Homo sapiens: one gene and its partners. The protein of the gene in region 5 purifies or fractionates together with the protein of the main gene of each other region. This does not show direct contact. Each region holds a gene or a part of one and is shown on either strand. Other genes may lie near its edges. The genes, in order: DIPK1A, VKORC1L1, BRI3BP, DPY19L1, ATP13A3, ATP9A and RFT1.

Region 1 (3,500 bases), on a different chromosome or scaffold from region 5:
CCACAATTCTAAGAGTATACTCATTTTATTTCACCTTTTTTGAATTAATTTTCATGTCAAACTGTACAGCACTCCAATTAATTAATGAACTCCCTCCTCATATCTGGACATTTTTAGCTATCATAAATAATGTTAAAGTAAACATTCTCCAACACAGATTTCTTTTCTTTTTCTTTTTTTTTTTGAAACAGGGTCTCACTTTGTCGTCCAGGCTGGAGTGCAGTGGTGAGATCTTGGCTCACTGCAACCTCGACCTCCCAGGCTCAAGCAATCCTCGCACCTCAGCATCTCAAGTAGTTAGGACTACAGGCACATGCCACCACTCCTGGCATATATATATATATATATATATATATATATATATATATATATATATATATGTGTGTATATATATATGTGTGTATATATATATATATATATACACACACACGTATATATATATATACGTGTATATATATATATATATAGCTGAGGTCTTACTATGTTGCCCAGGCTGGACTTGAACTCCTGGGCTCAAGTGATCCTCCTGCCTTGGCCTCCCAAAGTGCTGGGATAACAGGCGTGAGCCACCACGCCCGGCCTCTTATAATTATTTCCTCAGGATGGAGAATCTGATAGAGGTCAAAGAATATCAACACTTTAATGGCTTAGGATGAGGTCCTGCCAATTCCTCTAAAGAGTCCCACTTCACACTAGCAACATATGAATGGGTATGCTTACCTTAAAGAGACTATAGACCATTTCTTTAAATTTTTGTACAGTAGTTCCTCTAGTTGGCTTATCAAATAGCACTATTTCTTTTCTTGGTTCCAATTCAGTTCCAAAATCAAGATGAAGCGCTTGTTCCATTTGACATTTCACAACACCTGGTAGATTATCCCAAATCCCTAAATACATCTATGTAAAAAAGAGTGGCAAGTTATGTATTATACTGAGTAGAAAACTCTAAAAAATATACTACTATATTTTTAGGGTCCTCCTCCTCTGAACAAAACAAAACAAGCATCAAACATTGAGGTTAAGGTGTGACTTTATTTCTGAACTGCAAACTTGAAATCACACTCAAGATTTTTTCCTTAAACTAATTTTTTAAATTATAAGAGTAATGCATGCCTAAATATATTTTTCAAAAAGTCCAATGAGAAGGATGTAAGGCAAAAGCAAAGTTCCCAGACATTCTACTTCCATAATCCCACTTCCCCAGAATTAACTACTATTTAAGTATCTAGTTATTTATCAAACTAATATTATATAGTGTTAACTATGTCCTATGGTCTACTAATTTATTTTAGAGACAGGGTCTTGCTTTGTCACCCAGGCTGGGGTTCAGTGGCATAATCATAGCTCATTGCAGCCTCAAAGTCCTGAGCTCAAGGAATCTTCCTGCCTCAGTCTCCCAAGTAGCCAGGACTATAGGCATGTACCACTAAACCTGGCTAATTAAAAACATTTTTTGTAGAGATGGGGTCTTGCTGTATTGCTCAGGCTGGTCCTGAACTGCTAGCCTTAAGTGACCCACCTGCCTCAGCCTCTCAAGTTGCTGGGATTGTAGGTATGAGGCACCACACCTGGCTTTTACTGATTTATGTTATTATTTTAATCCTTGTACCAATCTTAGGTGGTAGGTACTATCATTATACTTATTTCACTGATGGGGAAACTGAAGCAGATACAGGTGAAGTAACATGCTGAAAAGAGCTGAGGTCTTTACCACTAGGATAGGTTGCCCCTCTTCTACATAAAAAAATAAATAAGATCATATTCATTCTTAATATTAATCCAAAGAAAACATTATTTCACTGCCTTGCTCCAAACCCTCTAATAAATTCCCCTTTCAATTAAAGTCCAAAGTCCTTTCCATGACCGGTTGGGCTCCATTTGAGCTAGCCTCGCCTATGTCTCCAACCTGATCTTGTACCACGTACTCCGTTTCTCAAAGTCCCAGCTACACTGGTCTTTCTGTGACAGGTTGAAGCTTGTTTCTGCTTCCTGACCTGCTTCACTTGCTGCTGGCTCTGCCTGGAATGTACTCTCCCAGATCTTCACATGGCTGGCTCCTTTACATCATTCAAGTCTCAGATTAGACATTGCATTTAGAAAGCCTTCCCTGACCCCCTGTCTAGAAGAGATCCTCTTCCACCCCCAGGTCACCTCTAACCCTGTTTCATTATCCTCATAGCCTTTTGCACTGTCTAAAATTATCATATTTATTTATTTATCAGTTCATTACTATCTGTCTCATCTCACATTAGAACATGAGGCCAGAGGCTTTATCTGTCTCCCTCAGTGCCTCAAACAGTGCCTGGCATGCAGGAGACACTCAAATGTTGGACTTTGTTTTAGAAATTGTCTTTAACATGATTAATACTGTCAACTGAAAAATTAGTTTAAATTTCTATAATAATAATGCATATTTATATAGGAAAATTTAGGAACCATAAGATGAACATTAAAATGCAATTTTCCACTGCTCCAGATGTTTCGTTGTATTTTCTTCTACCCCAATTAGATATTCTACTGTTTTATTCTTATTTCTCTGATGAAAAGTAAGGTAGAATTTTTTTTCATTATGTTCATCAGCTGTTTGCAGTTCTTTTGTGATTTAGTTCATCCTGTCCTTTTCCCATGCCTATGAATTTTTTATTAAGGTATAAGTTCAAATATTATTTCAGAAAGGTCTTCTCTGATCACATCCTCTAAAGCACTTCTCACCATCCCTTACACTGCATTCTCTATCAATTTGCCCTCTGTGTCTCCTACAGAACACACCATATTCTACAATTATTTTGTTTGTTTATTTATTTATTTATCAACTGTTTGTACCTCCTGTCCCTCTGGAATCATGTAAGGTCTGTAAGGGAAGCAATCTTGTCTGGTTTTTTTTTGTTTTTTTTTTTTTTTTTGAGACAGGGTGTCACTCTGTCACCCAGGCTGGAGTGCAGTGACATGAACACGGCTCACTGCAGCCCTGACCTCCTGGGCTCAAGTGATTGTCCCACCTCAGCCTCCCGAGTAGCTGGGACCATAGGTGTGTGCCACCACACCCAGCTAATACATATATATTTTTTGAGACAGTCTCGCTCTATTGTCCAGGCTGGAGTGCAGTGATGTGAGATCTTGGCTCACTGGAACCTCCGCCTCCCAGGTTCAAGCGATTCTTGTGCCTCAGCCTCTGGAGTTGCTGGGATTACAGGCATGTGCCACCACACCCGGCTAATTTTTTGTGTTTTTAGTAGAGAGGGGGTATCGCAATGTTGCTCAGGTTGGTCTTGAATGCCTGGCCTCAAGTGACCTACCGCCTCAGCCTCCCAAAGTGCTGGGATTACAGGTGTATGCCACTGTGCCTGGCCACCCAGCTAATTTTTGTATTTTTTGTAGAGACAGGGTTTTGCTATGTTGCTCAGGTAGGCCTCAAACTCCTGGACTAAAGCAATCCACCCACCTTGGCCTCCTGAAGTGCTGGGATTACAGGCCCGTGCCACGGGCCCGGCTGTTTGTAT
Region 2 (3,493 bases), on a different chromosome or scaffold from region 5:
ATTCTGATTTGAAGTATACGCTTTGGAAAAATACTCCTTTTGGTGTCCAGTCAGTTGAAAGACAATGAACCAATACAGTTTGTTTTGTTTGTTTTGAGACAGTCTTGCTCCGTCGCCCAGGCTGGAGTGCAGTGGCGCAATCTTGGCTCACTGCAACCTCCACCTCTGGGGTTCAAGCAATTCTCCTGCCTCATCCTCCCAAGTAGGTGGAACTACAGGCATCTGCCACCATTCCCAGCTAAATTTTTAAAAATATTTTTAGTAGAGATGGGGTTTCACCATGTTGGCCAGGCTGGTTTCGAACTCTTGACCTCAGGTGATCTGCTCGCCTCAGCCTCCCCAGGTGCTGGGATTATAGGCGTGAGCCACTGTGCCCGGCCTCCAATATGGTTCTTGCTATAGAACTTGATTTTCCCCTCTCTTGTGGTTGAGCCCCGTGTCTCCACACAGACCCTCCTTTTTAGCTTTCCTGTGCAAGCTCCATGAAAGAAAGAATAAAGTTAATTTCATGTGGTTTTATTAGGCATCGTCCATTTTTTAAAAATGAGTGTAGTCAGTTCCAATTAGGAATCTAGAGCTTCTGTATTTTTTTTATCAACTTCTCTTTAGTTTTTCAAAGGAATCAAGTTTTGTGTTCCAGTATGTCAAAGTATAATGAATAAAACTTTTAGTTGACAAACATTAAGAAAAGTTAAATGTAATAGACACATTTAAATGGTTTACAAATTAGGGGCAGTCCATTGTTTTTTTTCTTGAGCTGGAGTCTTCCTCTGTCGCCTAGGCTGCAGTGCAGTGGCGTGATCTCGTCTCACTGCAACCTCCGCCTCCCTGGTTCAAGCAATTCTCCTGCCTCAGCTTCCTGAATAGCTGGGATTACAGGCGCACACCACAATCCTGGCTAATTTTTCTGTATTTTTCAGTAGAGGCAGGTTTCACCATGTTGGCCAGGCTGGTCTTGAACTCCTGACCTCAAGTGATCCACCCGCCTCTACCTCCCAAAGTGCTGGGATTACAGGCATGAGCCATTGCACCCAGTGGGGGCAGTCCCTTTCCACAGGTCTTGAGCTCCAGCACAGAACACACTTGTTCTATTCCGTGAAGTATGGCTCAGCTGTATTTCCAACGGATTCATCTTTCTTGCCGATGCTACCTTTTTAGAGGATTATACAGGGAGTATTCAAGGTAAGCTAAAGTAAAACTATGGAAAAACAGCTCATTAATACATTCTGAGTGTTCACAGAACTGTAGGCAGTGACACATTTTTGTCATTAATTCTTGACAATCACATACACCGTAAACCTACAGGAATTCCAAGAACTAGAGGTCTGAGGACTCTGAATCTTCTGCAAGTTACATATGATTTAAGAGAAAAAGAATCAACCCTGTATACCTTAGAAATGAGGTTACAGTATTGACTTCAAGAATATAAGGCTCCTACTGAGTCTAAAAAGACTTCGTTTCAGTTCTTTTGGAATGCAACCCTGCAGTTTAAGAATAATGGGAGCACAACTTCCACAGGTAACTTCTACATTTATTTTATACCAAAAAAGTTATGTGCAACAAATAAACATTCTTACATATTTACATTTGGTTTTATTTACCAGTTAGCAAAACAGTGCCTTAAATCTCTGATAAAGAGTATTTCTATCTAGATTAAAGGGGAAACCTGCCCAGTGAACTCCATTTTAAATGACTGTTTACTCTGGAGCTTAAAGCACTAGTAAGAAATATTTCTGATGGAACATACTACACAGATCATATACCTAATAAATACTTAGGCCATGCTTAATACAGTTTTATAACAAAATATTTCACCTTTTCTGGGCGAATTTGTAGTAAAAAATGTTTAACCAAGTAGCCGGGGCTCCCACCCTTGCCCTTTTTGTTTGATGGAAGGGTAGTTCTCACAATTAGAAACCATAAGTGCTGCCTGAGGTGTCTGAAATGTTTCACCCATGACTGTGTGTTAGAGAAAAAGACACGAGGACAGAAATTGCATATTAGGTCATTAGGTCTTTTTCCCCAAATAGGTTACCAGAAATCACAGTGGGTCTCCTTGTTGGCATCTAATAATGATCTTCCAAGACAAGATCTCCTGTCACTCTTGGTACCAATCTAAGTTGTGAAGTAATTGCTGAAGATAACTCTGTACTTTTGCAAATAGTCTTTTCCAAAACTAAATGAAAAACAAAAGTCAACAAATAGTTTTTATTTTTATTTTTTTATTTGAGACAGAGTTTCACTCATTGCCCAGGCTGGAGTGCAATGGCGCAACTGTGGCTCACTGCAACCTCCACCTACTGGGTTCAAGCAATTCTCCTGCCTCAGCCTCTGGAGGAGCTGGCATTACAGGTGCCGCCACCATGCCCAGCTAATTTTTGTATTTTTAGTAAAGACAGGGTTCCACTATGTCGGTCAGGCTGATCTCGAACTTCTGACCTCAGGTGATCCAACCGCCTCGGCCTCCCAAAGTGCTGGGATTACAGGTGTGAGCCACCATGCCCAGCCAGCAAACAGTTTTAATTTCACTGTAGTCTTGGTCCTCTTTGAATGCAGTCTCTCTCTTTTTTTTTTGGGGGGGGGACAGTCTCGCTCTGTTGGCCAGGCTGGAGTGCAGTGGCATGATCTTGACTCACTGCAACCTCTGTCTCCCGGGCTCAAGCAATTCTCCTCCCTCAGCCTCCCGAGTAGCTGGGATTACAGGGGTGTGCCACTGCGCCTGGCTAATTTTTGTATTTTTAGTAGAGATGGGGTTTCACTATGCTGGCCAGGCTGGTCTTGAACTCCTGACCTTAGGTAATCCACCCGCCTCGGCCTCCCAAAGTGCTGGGATTATAGGCGTGAGCCACCGTGCCCGGCCGAATGTAGTTTCTTTGAATGAAAATAGTCAATGCTTTGAACATCATTTGAAAGTAATGAATTTAAGGAGAGGACACATGTATGAAGGAACAGTGATTCTGGGCACACAGCTAGTTAAACCTGAGTTATTTCACCGGAAATTTACCTTTAGTGAGAGCAACTAGCTGTAATGCAAAACAAATGAAATCCTCCAAATCACCTAGATTCCCTAGAATTTATCATCTAACCCCAATTCCTGTTATTTCTTCAAATGATATTTGTGAACATCAAGTCAATAAATGGCTTCATTTGGAACAAATCACTTAAAAAAGATGAGGCATGGAATTACTGCTAAAAACAAATGTTTCCCCTCATCTGTCCTTTAACACTGGTGGCTAGTAATGCTGCAGTGTTCAAATATTCAGTCTAAAACAGGCAAAACAATCTTCTAATTTTGTAACACTGGTGATTCCCCCCCTCTTCTGGGCAGAATCGGAGGTATAGAAAGGAATCTGAATTCTCCAGGGCAAAAAACACCCAATTAACACCCACCAGGATTCTGTTACTGAGACACTGGCATTACAATGCTGTTATGACAGGCAGTACGTGTTCCTCTCTCAGTGAGAAAAAGGGTATTAATTCGACTGGGCCATAG
Region 3 (3,500 bases), on a different chromosome or scaffold from region 5:
GTAGAGAAAACGGGAAGGTTACTTCATCCTGAGAGCATGGGATGCCTCTGAAGCTCTTAAGGCGGTAAGGGACAAGGTCTCCTCTGGGTATAAAAGCTGTACACCCTGGGCACTCTGCCCGGGTTAGCTCCTGTCACCCACCGATGGAATGCAGGTGGAGGTGGGGCAGAGCCACCTGGGAAGGGGAGTGTAAGGCTGGGGGTAGCACAGGCTGCAGGACTGGACTAGGAGTGCCCAGCTCAGTTACCATGACCGTTGCTGCCTTGCCATCCGCCAAGACCAGTATCAGTGCCCCCTCCCACATGTAGAAAGGGAGGGGCCGTGCCTCACCAATGTTCTCTTCCTGATTATAAACGTGTGACTAGCACTGCACTATCAAACTGGACTACCCTCCTCCCCTAGCCCACAAAACCAGGGGCCAGCTCCCCTGGCAATTCTTGCCCTGTGCGGTGGGTATGGTGGATGGGCTGGTGCAGCATCAGGTGACACCTGCTCCCAGGCTGCCTTCCTGGATGGCAGAAGCTGGAGAGCTAAGAACCGCATTAGCCTGCCTCCCTCGCAGCTAGGGACTGGACAGAAAGTAAGTTCCACCTGGCAGTTCCCCCATACACACACGACTTTGGAAATTAAGTGAAGTGTTGCAGCTGATATGCATGGTTCCAGAAATGGCAAGGGTCCCTGCACCCACATGCAAAGTCTAGTTGTTGTGGCGGCAGCAGTGGCCTCCTGGTCCTCAAATTATACTACAGTTGTGTGACTTCGAACTCAACGGTTTCAACAGCTGCAACCCTGGACAGCCAGTTCGGCAGTGTCTGAGGCCATGCATCTCTTCCTCAGCCTTTCTGATGGTTCTGTGAGTGTCTCTGTCTCATGAAATCCCCTTCTGCCTAAATAACTAGTCATTTCTTGCACGGATGCCAGTAAGCCAGAGCACTATACCTCTGGTCCATGTGTTTTGCACACAAATTGGCACTCCCACTACCCAGTCGCACCTTATCCTAAGTGGCATCTGGGAAATCTCAGCTTTGATGGGCCATTTGTTTTTTATTTTTATGATTATTTGAGAGGAGTCTTGCTCTGTCGTCCAGTCTGGAGTACAGTGGCATGATCATAGCTCACTGCAGCCTCGAATTCCTCATCTCAGGCAATCCTCCTGCCTCAGCCTCCCAAGTGGATGGGGACTACAGGTGCACATCACTGCACCCAGCAATTTTTTTGTACTTTTTTTTTATAGAGATGGGATCTCACCATGTTGCCCAGGCTGGTCTTGAATTCTTGGGTTCAAGCAACCCTCCCACCTTGGTCTCCCAAAGTGCTGGGATTACAGGCATGAGCCACCATGCCTGGCCTATATATGAGACTATTAAAATAAAAAATGTTCACTCATATCCTCACTGACCAGCCCTCCGCAACCTTCTCATGTATTACTCACTGTGAGTACCAGTTCCACACTATGAGAACCACCAAAATAGAATGACACCTTACGTGAATGCCACCCCTACACCTACCGTCAAGTCCAAGAACATCCAAGAGCTCGGTCCAGACTTTCCACAGTGTCTCCACGAACATATCCACTCCCAGCACAAATCTCTCAGTCAGCCTGGCCAAGAACTGCAGAAACAAGAAAACGGTCATCACCCAATCACTGTTTTCCTCCATCAGTCAAGCAGTGAACTGGGGAGCTTGGGAGTTTATACCTGGGAAGGGAAAAATAGTGAGCCCATGATGAATACCACACATGTGGACTACTGGCCCAGGGGATTGACTTGAACTGGGTACTGATCACAGCCTAACTGAGAAAAACTGGTGAAAACGACCCCTTCCTTGCAAGGGCTGAACAAGGCACCTATGGAGGCTGGGACTCTCTGCAGGGCCGCGTTACGCCGCTTGCCATTGCTCCTGCTGTCTTTCATGCTTCCTCTTGGGTCAGGATCTCTGCCTTCCTCTGCCTGATTTCTCTAAAGAGACAGGGTCTCACTGTTGACCAGGCTGGAGTGCAGTGGTGCAATGATAGCTCACTGCACCCTCAAACTCCCGGGCTCAAGCAATCCTGCCTTAGCTTCCCAAGTAGCTAGGGCTACAGGTGCAGCCACCACACCAGGCTTTATTATTATTTTGTAGAGATGGGCTCTTGCTATGTTGTCCAGGCTGGTCTCAAACTCTAAGCCTCAAGCAGTCCTCCTGCCTGGCCCTCCCAAAGTCCTGGGATTATAGGCGTGAAACACTGCACCGCACCCTGCGGGTTTCTCATTTTTAAAGAGTGGAAGTTTCTGCTCCAAGGAAGCTGGTAATGATACAGCCCCATGCTCTATCCAACTCTAAGGACCCTGAGCCTCTGAGGTCTTTATTTGCCCTCCAGGTGACACAGGGCTAAAGAAACATGAATACAAGGTACAGCCTCATTTTAACTTTTTTTTTTAAAAAATTAGTGATATTGTATACATGTAGCATAAAACTCAAGCCTACCAACAGGTATTCAGTGGAGACTAAGCCTTCCCTCTCATTTCCTGGCAACTGGAATCCCCCTCCGGAGGAACCCTTCCTTAGACGTGCCAGGTGAATAATGGCACAGACATATTCTTTCTGCAATGGCAGCACAGGTGTACAGCTGAGCTGCTTTGCTCATGCAACACTCTGTCTTGGAGATACTCACACTCAGACCACACAGAGCTGCCTCATCCTTTTTAAACATGGTACACCTGGAGCCAGGCCCATACTCATGGATACCTACATGGTTTCCAGCCTTGGCTATTACAGGGGAAAAAACAGCGAGCCCATGATGAATGCCACCAAGTGGTCTACTGGCCCAGGGGATTAACTTGAACTTGATACTAATTGATGACAGCCCAACAACTGAGCAAAACTGAGTAAAACACGCCCCTTCCCTTGTAAGGGCTGACCAAGGTATCTATGGGGGCTGGGACTCTGCAGGGCTGCATCACGCAGAGTGCTGCCATAATAGAACCCACCTACATGGGCCACTCGGCTCACGTGTGAAGGGTAAATGCCTCCGTGAATTGGCTACAGCTTTTTTTTTTTTTTTTTTTTTTTAAGACAGGGTCTCGCTCTGTCACTCCGGCTGGAGTGCAGTGGTATGATCTCGGCTCACTGCAGCCTCCACCTCCCAAGTTCAAGCAATCCTCCCACCTCAGCCTCCCGAGTAGCTGGTACTACAGGCACGCACCATCACACTCAGGTAATTTTCATATTTTTAGTAGAGACGGGGTTTCACCATGTTGGCCAGGCTGGTCTTGAACTCCTGACCTCAGGTGATCTGCCCACCCCGGCCTCCCAAAGTGCTGGGATTATAGGCGTGAGCCACCACACCCGGGCAGCTACAGTATTTTATGTTTTAATTTAATTTTATTTTATTTGGAGTCTCGCTTTGTCGCCAGGCTGGAGTGCAAGTGGCACGATCTCGGCTCACTGCAACCTCCTCCTCCCAGGTTCAAGTGATTCTCCTGCCTCAGCCTCTCGAGTAGCTGCGACTACAGGCATGC
Region 4 (3,500 bases), on a different chromosome or scaffold from region 5:
TTCTTTGGGCTTCACTCTCTTGAAACAACTGTAAGTTACTGGAACATAAAAATAATTTTCGTAACCTTTTTTCTCCAAGCTAACAATGAGCCTTTGAGAGTTCATATTCTGCCTAGACCCCTGCATAGAGTTTGAATATGTGAAAGTTGCAGAGGCTTTGTGCTGTAGAGTGTTGGGAGAGCTCCCTGGATTTGCATAGCTCTAACAGTCTCATGTTTGGGTAGGCAGAGCACTGTTTTACCCACACAAGAAGGGATATGAAGGCAAATTCAGGATGTATGGCAATAAACTTTGCACACTAAACAAAATCAGCAGACATTGAACTGACTTCAAGTCACTTACGAGCAATCAGACTGAGAGTTGGGGTGCAGAAGAGGGTGTGCTGGATTTCCCCATCTGGACCTTGACTTGCCATTTATTGTGTCTGTCACAGCAGGAGTTGAGTGGGAGGAAGCTACGAAAGTGACTCTCTCATCTGTTTTCCCCACTCATTAAAACAACACTCTCCATCTAGTACAAGATCTAAGCCAGGCTGATGACACACTGTCAGGAAACCTTGGACAGGTCCACTCTGCTTCAACCTTGACACAAAACAAAAGCTGTGCTTTCTGTCCTGACAGGGAAGCAAATGGGGAGTTCAGATAGGAGAGGAAAGTGAAGAATGACTAATATTTATCTAGTGTTTACATTTAGAGTAGGAAGTTTCTTGACAAAGCTTTCTGCCTGGTTTGGGACCTTCCTTATTTCCTTGGCCTTCACTCTCCATTTCAGTTATGATCAGCCTGAAACCCCTGTAGATTGCTGGGACGTGAAAGTATGTTGGAATGGGGGAAGCAGATGGGGAACTCAGTTAGGAGAGGAAGGGGAAGAGGGACCAATATTTATCTAGTGCTTAATCTGTGCCTGGCAATTGGTGAGCACTATGTTTAAATGATCTCATTTACAAGTGGCTTAATTGTATGGCTTGATTATTCCTTAAATATTTGACACTGTGTTTAAATATAAACACTCAAATATATTTGCATGCAAGTTGTAGATTAGTTTTAAATTAACTACAGTTCTCTGCTTTCTTTTACTCCAATAATAGAGTTGACATAGAATACATGTATTTAGAAGGAAATTATTCAGATTTTCACTAATGCTATTTGCAGATGGCTGGCCTGGGGAAACCTTGGGAAACTCAGATGAGGACTAAATAGTGTTGCACAAGGCAAACAGAGCTCCCCAAGACAGCTGTTTGCCCTCTCTTTTTCCTAAAAGCTGTTGAACTCAGGAAAACTGTGGGTCGTTCTCTACTTTCTGTGTGTCTCACTCTCTGCCACCGTGGGCCCTCAGTGTTGTAACAGTTCAGCCTTGACGTGTATGAGAAAATTACAAGGTAGAAAACCCATGCCCAGCCATATGATCATAGGTGTTCCATGTGAGTAGAAACCAGTGTCAGCAAAGGTGTGCAAAAAGTGTGCACTTGAGCCCTCTTCATGGGAACACTCACTGGCAAAACATTTCTAGGGGATAGTTTGATGAAGGGAAGGTAAGAAAAAAATTGTGCAGTCCTTTGGCAGAGTGATAATGTTGCCTCTAGAGCAGGGGTCTCCAAGCCCCCGGCCATGGACCAGTACTGGTCTGTGGCCTGTTAGGAACCCAGTCTCACAGCAGGAGGTGAGCGGAGGGTGAACAAGCATTACAGCCTGAGCTCTGGCTCCTGTCAGATGAGTGGCAGCATTAGATTCTCATAGGAGTATGAACCCTATTGTGAACTGCACATGCGGGGGATCTAGGGTACGTGCTCCTTATGAGAATCTAATGCCTGATGATCTGAGGTGAAACAATTTCATCCCAAAACCATCGCCCCCACCCTCCAGCCCATGGAAAAATTGTCTTGCAGGAAACCAGTCCCTGGTGCCAAAAAGACCGGGGACCGCTGCTCTAGAGGTTTAGTTTGCAGAAGGGAGCTCTGCACAAGACTGTTTGTAGCTGCATTGCTTTATAATGGCAAAATGGGAAACAATTAAAGTATCTGTCTGTAAAGAATTGGTTAAATAGTACATATGAGAACTAGCAGCTTTTAAAAACAGTAGAATAGATCTTTATGCACTGAGATGGAAAAATGGTTCCACGTTTTATTGTTCAGTATACAGTCCCAGAATAATTCCATTTTTGTAAAAACAACTCAAGAGCATCTGCCAGGGTTTTCCAGAGGGACAGAACTAATAGGATAGATGTGGCCGGGCGCGGTGGGTCACGCCTGTAATCCCAGCACTTTGGGAGGCTGAGATGGGCAGATCATGAGGTCAGGAGATCGAGACCATCTTGGCTAACACGGTGAAACCTTATGTCTACTAAAAATACAAAAACTTAGCTGGGCGTGGTGGTGGGCACCTGTAATCCCAGCTACTCAGGAGGCAGAGGCAGGAGAATGACGTGAACCTGGGAGGTGGAGCTTGCAGTGAGCCGAGATCACACCACTGCACTCCAGCCTGGGCGACAGAGGGAAACGCCATCTCAAAAATAAAAAAAGGATAGATGTATATATGAAATGGAGTTTATTAAGGAGTACTGACTCACACGATCACAAGGTGAGGCCCCACAATAGGCCATCTGCAAGCTGAGGAACAAAGAAGCCAGTCTGAGTCCCAAAACTTCAAAAGTAGGGAAGCTGACAGTGCAGCCTTCAATCTGTGGCTGAAGGCCCAAGGTCCCCTGGCAAACCACTGGTGTAGACCCAAGAGTCCAAAAACTGAAGAACTTGGAGTCTGATGTTCAAGGGCAGGAAACATCCAGCACAGGAGAAAGATGGAGGCCAGAAGACTCAGCCAGTCTAGTCCTTCCACAATTCTTTTGCCTGCTTTTATTCTAGCCATGCTGGCAGCTGATTAGATGGTACCCACACAGATTGAGGGTGGGTCAACCTCTCCCAGTCCACTGACTCAAACATTAATCTCCCTTGGCAACACCCTCACAGACACACCCAGAAACAATACTTTGATCCTTCAATCCAATCAAGTTGACACTCAATACTGACCATCACAGCATCTATGTATATAATGATATCTGTGTCTGTATGTGTGTCTGACATTGGAGAAAGATACAGCAGATAGCAAATATTGTATGTTCTCACTTATAAGTGGGAACTAAGCTACCAGGATGCGAAGCATAATAATGGTACGGACTGTGGACTCGGGAAGCGAGGAGTGGGGTGAGGGATAAAAGACTACACATTGGGTACACTTTACACTGCTCTGGTGGTGGGTGCACCAAAATCTCAGTAACTGCCACTGAATAACTTATCCGTGTAACCAAAAACCACTTGTTTCCCAAAAGCTATTGAAATAATTTTTTTTTTTTTAAAAAGGTCCAGCAGGATATATGCTGGATTGTTTATAGAAGTCACCTCTGAGAAATGCTATTGGAGATGATGGTGACTTTCATTTCTTAAAATGTATGTAGGTCTATATTTTGATACTTTTATAATGACTGATTATTATAAATTAAAGGTGTTA
Region 5 (3,500 bases):
TTGAGGTCAGGAGTTAGAGACTGGCCTGGCCAACATGGTGAAACCCCGATTCTACTAAAAATATAAAAATTAGCAGGGCATGATGGTGCACACCTGTAATCCCAGCTACTCAGGAGGCTGAGGCAGGAGAATCGCTTGAACTCGGGAGGCGGAGGTTGCAGTGAGCTGAGATCGTGCCACTGCACTCCAGCCTGGGTGACAGAGACAGACTCTGTCTCAAAAAAAAAAAAAAAAAGAAAAAAAGAAATTTCTATTTTTCCCTTTGTAACTAGCACCTTGTGAAAAGATACTTTGAGACTGTGAAAATCCTGCTCCTCATCAAACTTTCACTAGTTTTATCATCTACTAAAGATAAGTGGTTCTCAACTGGAGGATTTTGCACCCCAAAGGAGCATCTGGCAATGTCTGGAGATATTTTTTGTTCTAATCTAGGGGACTACGGGAAAATAGGCATAAAGGACATTGTTGACACAAATGACAAAACCTGAATATAGGTTTTGCACCAGATATTATATCAATGTTAAATTTCCTGATCTTTACAACTGTATTTAGTTACATAAAAGAATGGTTTTGCTTTTAGAAAATATATACTAAAATTGTCAGAGGCAAAAGAGCATAATGACTCAAAACTTATTTTCAAATATTTCAGGGAAAAAAATAGAGACAGAACAATTAAAAAATTGGCGCAAGATATAAACAACTGGTAATAAAATAACATATTTACAAGGAATCTGGAGAGGTGTGAGCTATGTTACAATTGTTGATGTAAATTTACAAAAATTTAATAAGTCACATCAGAATTTCATACACTTTAAAAATCAATAACAAAGCAAAATACTCACTTGTAAATACCACTACCAAAATGATTGCCAGATCAATGAAGAGAAACTGGAAGTCTCCTAGGTTACTTAAGATCTACAGAAGTAATTTTAAAAACATTATTAGTTTTTGGGAATTATTTTTATAGCGTCCCCAGGTTTTATTAATAGTTTGGATTTTCCCTATAATGACAACTTAAAAATGACACTCGGACCTGCTTAAAAATTGAAATATAAGTGTCTCTGAAACTAAATATAACATATATTTATAAATATTTGATTTAGTATATTAGTATAAAAGGCATCTCCTTAAAATTCGTTCAATAGGCTGGGCGCGGTGACTCACACCTGTAATCCCAGCACTTTGGGAGGCCGAGGCGGGCAGATCACTAGGTCAAGAGATCGAGACCACCCTGGCCAACATGGTTTTTTTGGCAAAAAGAAAACACAAACATTTACTCAAAATATTCAACGTTGTAAATTAGTATCTTCATCTAATACCATCCCTTCTGATACTTTCTACAAACGGTCAAATGGGATAGTGTCACCATGAGTCTTTAGGATGTCAGAACACTTTGATTATAAAATCTGATAGGGTACCTGTGGCCATCGCTGTTTATACTTTTTCTCCAAATGCAAACCATTCTCCAAATTCAACAAACCACTGTTGAAACATCTTTTCTCATTTTAACTTTTTCAATTTGCTATTCAAACTACAGTAAATTGAAGGTAAATTTATAGGTACTACTCACAGAAACAATTACTAATGGATGCATTCAAAATCAAACACATACGCTCAACATCTTAATTTACGGTGCACATTAAGTGTTATCTCTGCACACAATGTTAATACTCACAGAATACAGCAGAGTAACACTGAAGTACTGGATAATGCTGTACAATGCCATGAATTTAAACACACAGAAGGAAGTTATTAAAGCAGCACGGCCTTCCCTGTGAAAAGAAATCAAATGTCGGCATATGAATAGAAGCATTTTAAACTCCTTTTCCAAACCACAATTTTATCTTGACAGATGAACATCAACATTCAACGGCTACAACAAAGTGCTTATCCACCAAAAGAACTAAACCAAATGAGGAGTAGCAATCAATCTGTTACTAATAAGTTACAGCTCAAATGTGCTAATCTGCTAATATTAAACAAATTCATGTTACTTTTTATGATAATTTTCTCTTCTGTATTATCAGAGACAGAGAAAAAGGGATGAGAAAAATTTTAATTTGTACTACCTGATAAGGTTTGGCACACAGGAAATACTAGGAGTCTTAGAGGTAAAGGGAGATGCCACTGAAGCTTCGAGCTCCGATAAGGAAATGCCTCCGTGTGCCCTCTTCAAAGCCTAATAATTTTAAGAAAACTGGTTAAGTTTTGTGAATATGATTTAGGCTAGAGTAAGAACTATAAAACTAAATCACAAAAACTATACTTACACCACAATCATTTGCGCCATCACCACACATCCCAACAAAATAACTAAGAAACAAAACAATGTTAAGATTTTAATTAATTTCTTAAACTACAAAACATTTAACTTATTAAGACTTTTCTATTACAGTATTATAAAGAGCTAACACACCAAGATTCCCCCAGTGGAACTATGAATCTTTTCACTATAATGAACACAGGTGTGCTGCTTTGCAAACAGCACCAGACCACAAGTGAAATGAGCTAGGTTATTGTCCTATTTCTGTCACATTATCGGCAAATCATTTTGGTGTCTCAATTTCCTCATCTTTAGAGCAAAGCGCTTGTGCCTACAGTCTTTAGTATGGCTACTTTTAACGTTATCAGTAAAAATTTATCCCTTAATAACCTGAAACATAACTGTTTACTAAAATGATTAGCCACTTCTATCAAGATAGAGCACCTGAAAGAATGAAGTCATAGAGAAAAAACTGTGGATATTGTACTTTAGCTAAATAAAAAGCACATGAGACTCTTTTAAAGCGGCACTTAAAGTTCTGAACTATCTTATAGATCACAATTATATATATAAATATGAAATATTAGTATAAGAAACATATAAAAATTATTTTTCTGATGCTGAAATGAAACCATCATTCATCAAAAACCAAAACCAAAAAAGACACCAATACTTACTCAACATTTTGCAATGCTTCTATCAACTGTGTCTTCTGATCAGGTGCCATACGGGCAAACACGGTGCCATGCAACATCAACTGGAAACAATAATACAAATTTTTTTAAAATACTGTTGCGATGCATTCATGTGAGCACACACATACACCCAAATTACTTACCTTAGGAACAAGGTCTTGAAAATGCTCCAGTATCACTGAGAATGATTTTCCATTCATTGCAAAATGATAACGAGTCATTTGAAGATCCTCTAAGCTATCATGGACCAATTTAACCGGAATAGCCTGTGTATATGAGACATTGGGAACAATATTTAGGCAACCAAACCAAGTAAAACAATTCTATTTTAAACATATTTGTTCTAAAACTGAATTCTTTCATTTGATATGTTCCACAACATGATGAAAGCCGGACATTTATTCAAAGTAAAAAGAAACTCAATTAAATATCAGCTTCAATTTGAAATGATGCATGAACTGAGTATGATGGACCACCTGCATCATTTACCACTAGTTACCTGAAGAATACGATAAACATCTGGAATTCTTGTACTTTAAAAC
Region 6 (3,500 bases), on a different chromosome or scaffold from region 5:
AAAATTAGCCAGGCATGGTGGTGCACGCCTGTAATCCCAGCTACTCGGGAGGCTGAAGCAGGAGAATCGCTTGAACCCAGGAGGTGGATGTTGTAGTGAGCCGAGATCGAGCCACTACACTCCAGCGTGGGTGACAAAGTGAGAATTAGTCTCAAAAAAAAAAAAAAAAAGAATTAACATTAAAATTAACATTACATGGGAATAAACCTTCCCTTGGGTAAAAAACCCTGAAGACAAATAAAATTATACACCTGCCTAGGCACACGCCACCACACACACTTTTTGGAACTGTACACAAGAACATCTCTGGGAGCAAACGTTAAGTTGCAACTGCAAAGCGGAACTGTCAGGGGCTTTTTGCAAGTCGTGAGTTGGCTTGTTTTCAGTTTATCTATTACTGTACTTTTTCACGTTCTTTATACCAGTGAATATATTACTGCTTTAAGAAAAAATGTAAACTCCCACACCTTCCCCCCAAAAGTAAAAAAGCTACCAGTTCAAGTGTGTTCAAATCAGAATTGGAGGGTCTGTGTGAAATAAATTCAAAGAAAAAAAGCAGGGAGGGAGGGAAGGAAGGGAAAAGCAAAGGAGGAAAGGAGGAAGGAGGGACTGAAAAGCTAACAGAACCTTGAGAAGATCCTTGTAGAGCTCAGGATACAGCATGGCAACTTCCGATTTGACATCTTTGTCCAGGACCAGAGAAAACACAGGAAACATGGTGTAAATTGTGGAGTACCTGGGAGAGAAAACCGCCATAGGTAAGACCTGGCTGACGCGATAGGAGCTATGTGCTGTGCCAGCCTCCGGCACCCAAGTCCCAACCATGCCTCTAACAAATATTTACTGCTTGTCTATTATGCTCCGGGGCTGGCTGTAAGCACCAGAAACCCATGAGCAAAAATGGACAAAAATGTCTGCCCTGAAGAGCTTTCATCCCGGTCAGCGAGTCAATAAACAAATAAATTAGGTAAACTCTATGTGTGTTAGAGAAGTGCTAAAGAGAAAAATATAATGGGGTAGAGGAAATAAGACGTGTGTGTGTGTGTGTGTGTGTGTGTGTGTGTAGGGGGTGATGGTACAATTTTAGAGGCTGAGGAACAGAACATTTGAGTGAACACCCACAAAAGGTGAGGGCCAGCCAAGCCAATCCCAGGAGGAAGAGCATTCCAGGGAGAAGGAACCACCAGTGCAAAGGCACTGAGGCGGGAGTGGCTGTCATGTCTGAAGAACAGCCATAAGGCCAGTGGGGCTGGGGCTGAGGGCGACGGAAGAGGAAATGAGGACCCACGGGAAAGATGGGACCAGACCACGGAAGGTCGCACGGCGCACAGCTCAGGGAACCCCTGACTATATTCTGTAATGTTCTTGTACTCTTCCAGAACCCGACGAAAGACAGCCCGCTTTTCCAGTTAGAAGCAGGCAGAATTCTAGTGCCTCCTCTCAGGCTGAACTCATCAGCCAACACAGTAGGATGGAAAGCGGACTCTGTGAGACTCTCCAGAGCGCAGCTGACCTTCCCGCACCCGCCGTCTCCTCATAACCAGAAGTGGCCTCAGCTGCATGTGTCTGTATCTAGGGCACTCGGTAACCAAACTCCACCTACCTGGGTGATTCAGAGACTGAGCACATTCTCTGAAAAGGTCAGAAGGATCATCCTGAAGTTCCAGGTCAGTAATGGGGGTGGGTTTGCAGGCTGCAAAGGCCCAAGTGACACCATCTCTGTCACTGTGGCACAGCAGCCAAGCTCTGTTACTTGCACATCCCCGAGGCAGTGGACTCTGGCCCTCCCTGGAGCTCCAAGGATGGGACTTCTACTGGGCTCAGTTCAGGCCAGGAGGGCATTTTTCAGATCCCCCACCCCTTTTTATTAAGACCCCAGTGAAATCACCAAGTCTGCAAACCTTCCACCTTGCTCTCCTCAATCAACTGATAACTCTGGAGTATTTTTTCAAGACCAGGTACAAATGGCAAAGTGCAACACACCACACACATCTCCAACTCCACTTCCTCCATCTGGTTAAGGGCTTAACAGCTCAAAACCTTGTTAATTGAAGGAGGTTCTAAACCATGGTGCTGGGCCTGCATTCGCTGGGGCTGGGAATCCAATGTGGCTTGGGAACCCAAGAATTTTTCCACCACGTTTCTTCTCTCTGTTGCAGCATTTGAAGAAGGTTTTGTAAACAATTAATTCCTTGGCAGGATTTCCTTACCCAATGATGAGGAATCCTTGATAGAGAGGGACGGAGGCAAAGTAAAACACGGAGGAAAAGACAGCCTGTGCCAAGGAGAGAGGAGGATGTCACCAAAAGTCATGACAAAATCCCTTACATTTACAGAATAAAAATAACACCTGATACTTACATAACACCCGCGCCGGCACTGCTGTAAGGTACTTTACATGGATTTGCTCATTTCATTCTCACAACATCAACAACAACCCTATGAAGTAGGTACGATTCTCATCATCCTCATTATGCAAAGCAGAAAGTGAGGCATAGAGAGGGTACGTGGCTTGCCCAAGCCCACACAGTTCCTAAGCAGCAAATCTAGGAATCATTCCCGGGTAGGGTGATGTATCACAGCTCCAGGGTCTACTCAGCCTGTTGTGAATATTTATTAAGTTCCAGGACCCAGGAATGCTTTGTACATGAGCACAGCTGATCTCCAGAGCAGCCCACAGGATCAAGCCCTACTATCACCCACACTTTACAGAAGGGGAGGCTGAGCAGGTAAACAGCCCTATGGGACTCAAGCCCAGCTGTGGCCACAGCTCTGTGGCCACACTTCTAAACAGCTCGGAATCCTCACCTCTGTAGGCATGCACGCTGCTAACCAAAGTGCCGTAGGTATGGAAACACATACAGAAAAAGAGCCTCTGAAGTGTCTACGGGGGCTGGGATGGCAGAAAAGGCTTCACTTCTTATATTACATGTTTCGGTATTTGGGGAAATTTTTGAAAAGAGCATGGTGACAGATTATTTTTGCAATTAGACAAAAGCAATGAAGATATTTACAAACCCTCGCGGAAATGTCTGCTTCCTGCTTTGGAAAATATTAGCTGCTGGTAATGATGAATAGGCTGGGGAGATCCAATCAGGCTTGAAGCTCTGTTAGCTCCATCTCTGGACCTCTATGGGCTAACAGAGGAAACACGGTCTCCAAGCTGATATCCATTCATATAAAGCTGAAGGAAGGCCAGAGACAAATGCTGCCTGAAAGCTTTTAGAAAGCAGAAGAAAGCAAGGCAGAGATACCCTAGTCATTAGAAATAGCATCAGACCAGGGCTAGCTCCCCAGAGCACCTTCAATGGACACAGAGAGAAAGCATGTAAGAAACACGTGCTTTCTCGGCACAGAGCTCAGAGCGCAGGTGATCCTGAGCGCCATGGCCACAGGAAGCCCCAGTTCGCCCTGGCTGCGCCGGAAAAGCCACTTTTCCAGTGACTTTTCACCCAGGCTGTGCCGCTGCTTAGGAAGGATGGTTGTAAAAATGTCAAGAA
Region 7 (3,500 bases), about 140 Mb from region 5:
AAAACATCAACTTTGCATTAATGACCTGTATAAGAAAGTACTGTTGATGGAAGCATTCTGTATCTTGACTGTATCATCGTTGGTATCCTGGTTGTGATATTGTACTATAGTTTTACAAAATGTTACCACTGGGTAAAGGGTATATATGGGATCCCTCTATTACTTCCTATTTTTTTGTCTTTTTTATTTATTTTTTATTTTTTGAGACAGGGTCTCATTCTATTGCCCAGGCTGGAGTGCAGTGGTACCATCACAGCTCACTGCAGCCTCAACCTCCTGGGCTTGGGTGATCCTCCCACCTCAGCCTCCCAAATAACTGGGACTACAAATGCACACCACCACGCCTGGCTAAATTTTTCCATTTTTGTAGAGACAGGGTTTTTCCGTGTTTCCCAGGCTCATCTCAAACTCCCTGGCTCAAGCAGTCCACCCACCCTGGCCTCCCAAAGTGCTGGGATTATAGGCATGAGCCACCGTGCCTGGCCACTATTACTTCTTATAACTCTGTGTGAATCTATAATTATCTCAAGATAAACAAACTTTAATGAAAATATTAAATAATTTTAATAGTGCTATAAAAATTAAAATAGAAAAACCAACATGATTGTTGTTTCTTCTTTTTTGTTTTGTAGGTGTGTATGATATAGTGAATAATCTTGGCTCCCTTGTGGCCAGATTAATTTTCCAGCCAATAGAGGAAAGTTTTTATATATTTTTTGCTAAGGTGCTGGAGAGGGGAAAGGATGCCACACTTCAGAAGCAGGTAATGTTGGTTCTTATGTCATCTCTCAAGTGAATTCTCCCTTTAATTGCAAGACAGACAGGAGTGTGAAGCAGTCTGTTTCTCTTCTGTTTGATCAGGAATTTTCTTATAGATTTCATTCTTCTATTACATTCTTCATGATAGTGGGACCCAGGGCTCACCTCTTCTTTCGTGGCCTTCTTGCTTTGCTCTTGGCTGTCCCTTCCTTCTCACACCTTTGTTATTCGTTGTGACCTTACTCTTTTTGGGGGGGGGGGCGGGGATAGAGTCTTGCTCTGACGCCCAGCCTGGAGTGCAGTGGCATGACCTCGGCTCACTGCAACCTCCACCTCCCAGGTTCAAACGATTCTCCTGCCTCAGCCTCCTGAGTAGCTGGGACTACAGGCATGCGCCACCACACCCAGCTAATTTATGTATTTTTAGTAGAGATGGGGTTTTGCCATGTTGGCCAGGCTGCTCTTGAACTCCTGACTTCAGGCAGTCTGCCCACCTCAGCCTCCCAAAGTGCTAGGATTACAGGTGTGAGCCCCCATACCTGGCCATGTGACCTTACTCTTGATCCAGCCCTCTCAGGACTCTAAAGCTGTCCCCATTGCCCTGCAGATGCCCAGCCATGGGCTAGTCTTAGGCGTAAGAATGCTTCCCTTATCCTCAGAGTCTCAAGAGCCAAAGGATGCAGAAGTTGGAGCCAGGCTAATCAAGGGCATAGGGAGGAGAGGAAGTGGTTGTTGGCTTTCGCTCACCACACCAATTATTTAAGCTTCTTACAACTGGGACATGCCCAGAGCTACACTCTGACTGTAAGATTCTGTATACTCGGGTTGGTAAATACAGAAGAAGAGATTTTAATCTAGGAGTATTTTGTTGTAGGAGCTTCACTTTTTCCAAAACCACTGAAAATGTCTGACTTTTCTTAGAATAGCAAGCTAGTTCAGCCTCTTGCTTGTCTTAGAAGAAATTTAGTAAAATACAGTTTATGCACAATATCTCAAAATGAGCTAATCTGGTACTCAGTCTGATTTAGGAATATTTTCCTAAGAGTACCTTCACAGTATCATCATAATTTTGGAATGTTTAGCAGGAGAAGCACAGAGCTGGCTAGTGTATATGAAAACTTGCTGCACATTTAAGAATAAATATTAGTGGTCTGGTGCAGTGGCTCATGCCTGTAAGCCTCACGCTTTGGGAGGCCAAGGCAGGAGGATTGCTTGAGGCCAGGAGTTTGAGATTAGCCTGGTCAACATAGTGAGACTCCCTTCTCTATTTCTATTTAAAAAAAAAAAAAAGAACAAATATCAGAGGGGAAAGTGAGTGTTTCCTAAGCAATATTTGAAACAATTTATCCCAAGTGAATTGAAAACTAACCCTCCCCCTTACGACCTAAGGAGACACACACTTTTTCCTTCATTTGCTAACTGACGTGAAAACAAACACACTACAAAAAAATAGTGATATCCATCACGCTGTTGGAAGAGTGAACTGTAAAACAGTGAAGGGAGAAGGCCAGACGTGAAGGATGAAGGTTTTCTTCAGCTCATGATTCATCCAACTTCCTTCCCTCTTCCCTGGCCCCAGGAGGACGTTGCTGTGGCTGCTGCAGTCTTGGAGTCCCTGCTCAAGCTGGCCCTGCTGGCCGGCCTGACCATCACTGTTTTTGGCTTTGCCTATTCTCAGCTGGCTCTGGATATCTACGGAGGGACCATGCTTAGCTCAGGATCCGGTACGCACAAGAGTTTTTCTGGATTTTTTCTGATTTCCCAACATAAATAGAAGAGTCACGAAATTCAAGAACTTGTGCACACACAGTTGTTATCTGTGTCAGTGTAGGGAAAACTGTCTGGTGGCAGGGGCTGTGGGACTGTTCCCCTCGTTCAACTCCAGACACACACTCAAGGTATAGGCAGGGGCGTTGGCGCCAGGACAATCAGCTTCCCCAGCCTCACTTGGAGAAGTTATTAGGACTTCTCCTTGCTGTTGGCTTTCCTCTCGGGCCTAGAATGTGTTTTGCCAAGCGCTTCCCTGTGCTCCCTCTGGGGTGAGGGAGGAAGGCAGAGGGCAGACGGTAATGAGTCTCCACTTGGTACTAAACACATCTGAAGATAGTAAATGCCACATAAATCTCCCAGCCTAGTGCATAAAAGCCTCTGAAGGATAACCCAAAGCCATTTGCAGAGAATAAAATTGATCTCTGCAAATAAAATGGTATATTTAATCCAGTGACTCTCAGTTTTTGAAGAAGAAAAGTATTGAATGTGTCTAATTTTGAAACACCAGGCCGCTGAGGATCTCACAGCACTTGTTAGGTCTTGGGGACTTCATCAATTTCAAAATGTGCTGGGCTGTAAGCTGGCAGTCCATTTGCAGTGCTTCATCTTGGGTTTAGCAAAGATGTTTTTAATTTCTCAGGTCGCTGGACAAGAACGCTGAGGACTTCTTTCTGCTGCCCCATCTCAATATAAAGGGCTTTGTCAAATGCCATTTTACAAGTTCACTAGCATGTTTTAGTCTCCACTACAATGGGGCCCAAACTTTTGGTGTTAGGGGAGGAAGGGCCAGGTTTCTATACCAGAGCAAAGGTCATTAAGTTTGGAGAAACACCTGCTGTGAAACCAGTGAAGTGGTTTGCAGCTCCCTGGGGCTTGTGCTGTGAGAAGTGTATTTCCATCTGGCAGCTGTGGGGAGGCCTCATGAGGAAGGCATTAGTAAGTTTATGGGCAGAGATTGGGAACTCGACTAT

Evidence for each region.
Region 1: the proteins of ATP13A3 (region 5) and DIPK1A purify together in Homo sapiens (co-immunoprecipitation; one large-scale study listed by IntAct). This does not show direct contact.
Region 2: the proteins of ATP13A3 (region 5) and VKORC1L1 purify together in Homo sapiens (affinity purification with mass spectrometry; one large-scale study listed by BioGRID and IntAct). This does not show direct contact.
Region 3: the proteins of ATP13A3 (region 5) and BRI3BP purify together in Homo sapiens (affinity purification with mass spectrometry; one large-scale study listed by BioGRID and IntAct). This does not show direct contact.
Region 4: the proteins of ATP13A3 (region 5) and DPY19L1 purify together in Homo sapiens (affinity purification with mass spectrometry; one large-scale study listed by BioGRID and IntAct). This does not show direct contact.
Region 6: the proteins of ATP13A3 (region 5) and ATP9A purify together in Homo sapiens (affinity purification with mass spectrometry; one large-scale study listed by BioGRID and IntAct). This does not show direct contact.
Region 7: the proteins of ATP13A3 (region 5) and RFT1 purify together in Homo sapiens (affinity purification with mass spectrometry; one large-scale study listed by BioGRID and IntAct). This does not show direct contact.

What each region holds. Positions count from the first base shown.
Region 1 is NC_000001.11:92,846,463-92,849,962, forward strand, and holds part of DIPK1A (divergent protein kinase domain 1A), read right to left. Parts: intron 898-3,500; coding exon 721-897; intron 1-720.
Region 2 is NC_000007.14:65,956,566-65,960,058, reverse strand, and holds the end of VKORC1L1 (vitamin K epoxide reductase complex subunit 1-like protein 1), read right to left. Parts: 3' UTR 501-3,493; downstream 1-500. UniProt on the Homo sapiens protein: Involved in vitamin K metabolism. Can reduce inactive vitamin K 2,3-epoxide to active vitamin K, and may contribute to vitamin K-mediated protection against oxidative stress.
Region 3 is NC_000012.12:125,010,645-125,014,144, reverse strand, and holds part of BRI3BP (BRI3-binding protein precursor), read right to left. Parts: intron 1,612-3,500; coding exon 1,509-1,611; intron 1-1,508. UniProt on the Homo sapiens protein: Involved in tumorigenesis and may function by stabilizing p53/TP53.
Region 4 is NC_000007.14:34,932,986-34,936,485, reverse strand, and holds part of DPY19L1 (protein C-mannosyl-transferase DPY19L1), read left to right. Parts: intron 1-3,500. UniProt on the Homo sapiens protein: C-mannosyltransferase that mediates the C-mannosylation tryptophan residues on target proteins.
Region 5 is NC_000003.12:194,428,003-194,431,502, forward strand, and holds part of ATP13A3 (polyamine-transporting ATPase 13A3), read right to left. Parts: intron 3,225-3,500; coding exon 3,102-3,224; intron 3,021-3,101; coding exon 2,941-3,020; intron 2,314-2,940; coding exon 2,271-2,313; intron 2,180-2,270; coding exon 2,070-2,179; intron 1,773-2,069; coding exon 1,676-1,772; intron 916-1,675; coding exon 843-915; intron 1-842. UniProt on the Homo sapiens protein: ATP-driven pump involved in endocytosis-dependent polyamine transport. Uses ATP as an energy source to transfer polyamine precursor putrescine from the endosomal compartment to the cytosol.
Region 6 is NC_000020.11:51,607,891-51,611,390, forward strand, and holds part of ATP9A (probable phospholipid-transporting ATPase IIA), read right to left. Parts: intron 2,276-3,500; coding exon 2,211-2,275; intron 737-2,210; coding exon 628-736; intron 1-627. UniProt on the Homo sapiens protein: Plays a role in regulating membrane trafficking of cargo proteins, namely endosome to plasma membrane recycling, probably acting through RAB5 and RAB11 activation. Also involved in endosome to trans-Golgi network retrograde transport.
Region 7 is NC_000003.12:53,102,936-53,106,435, reverse strand, and holds part of RFT1 (man(5)GlcNAc(2)-PP-dolichol translocation protein RFT1), read left to right. Parts: intron 1-632; coding exon 633-763; intron 764-2,338; coding exon 2,339-2,483; intron 2,484-3,169; coding exon of another isoform or gene 3,170-3,222; exon of another isoform or gene 3,223-3,241; intron 3,242-3,500.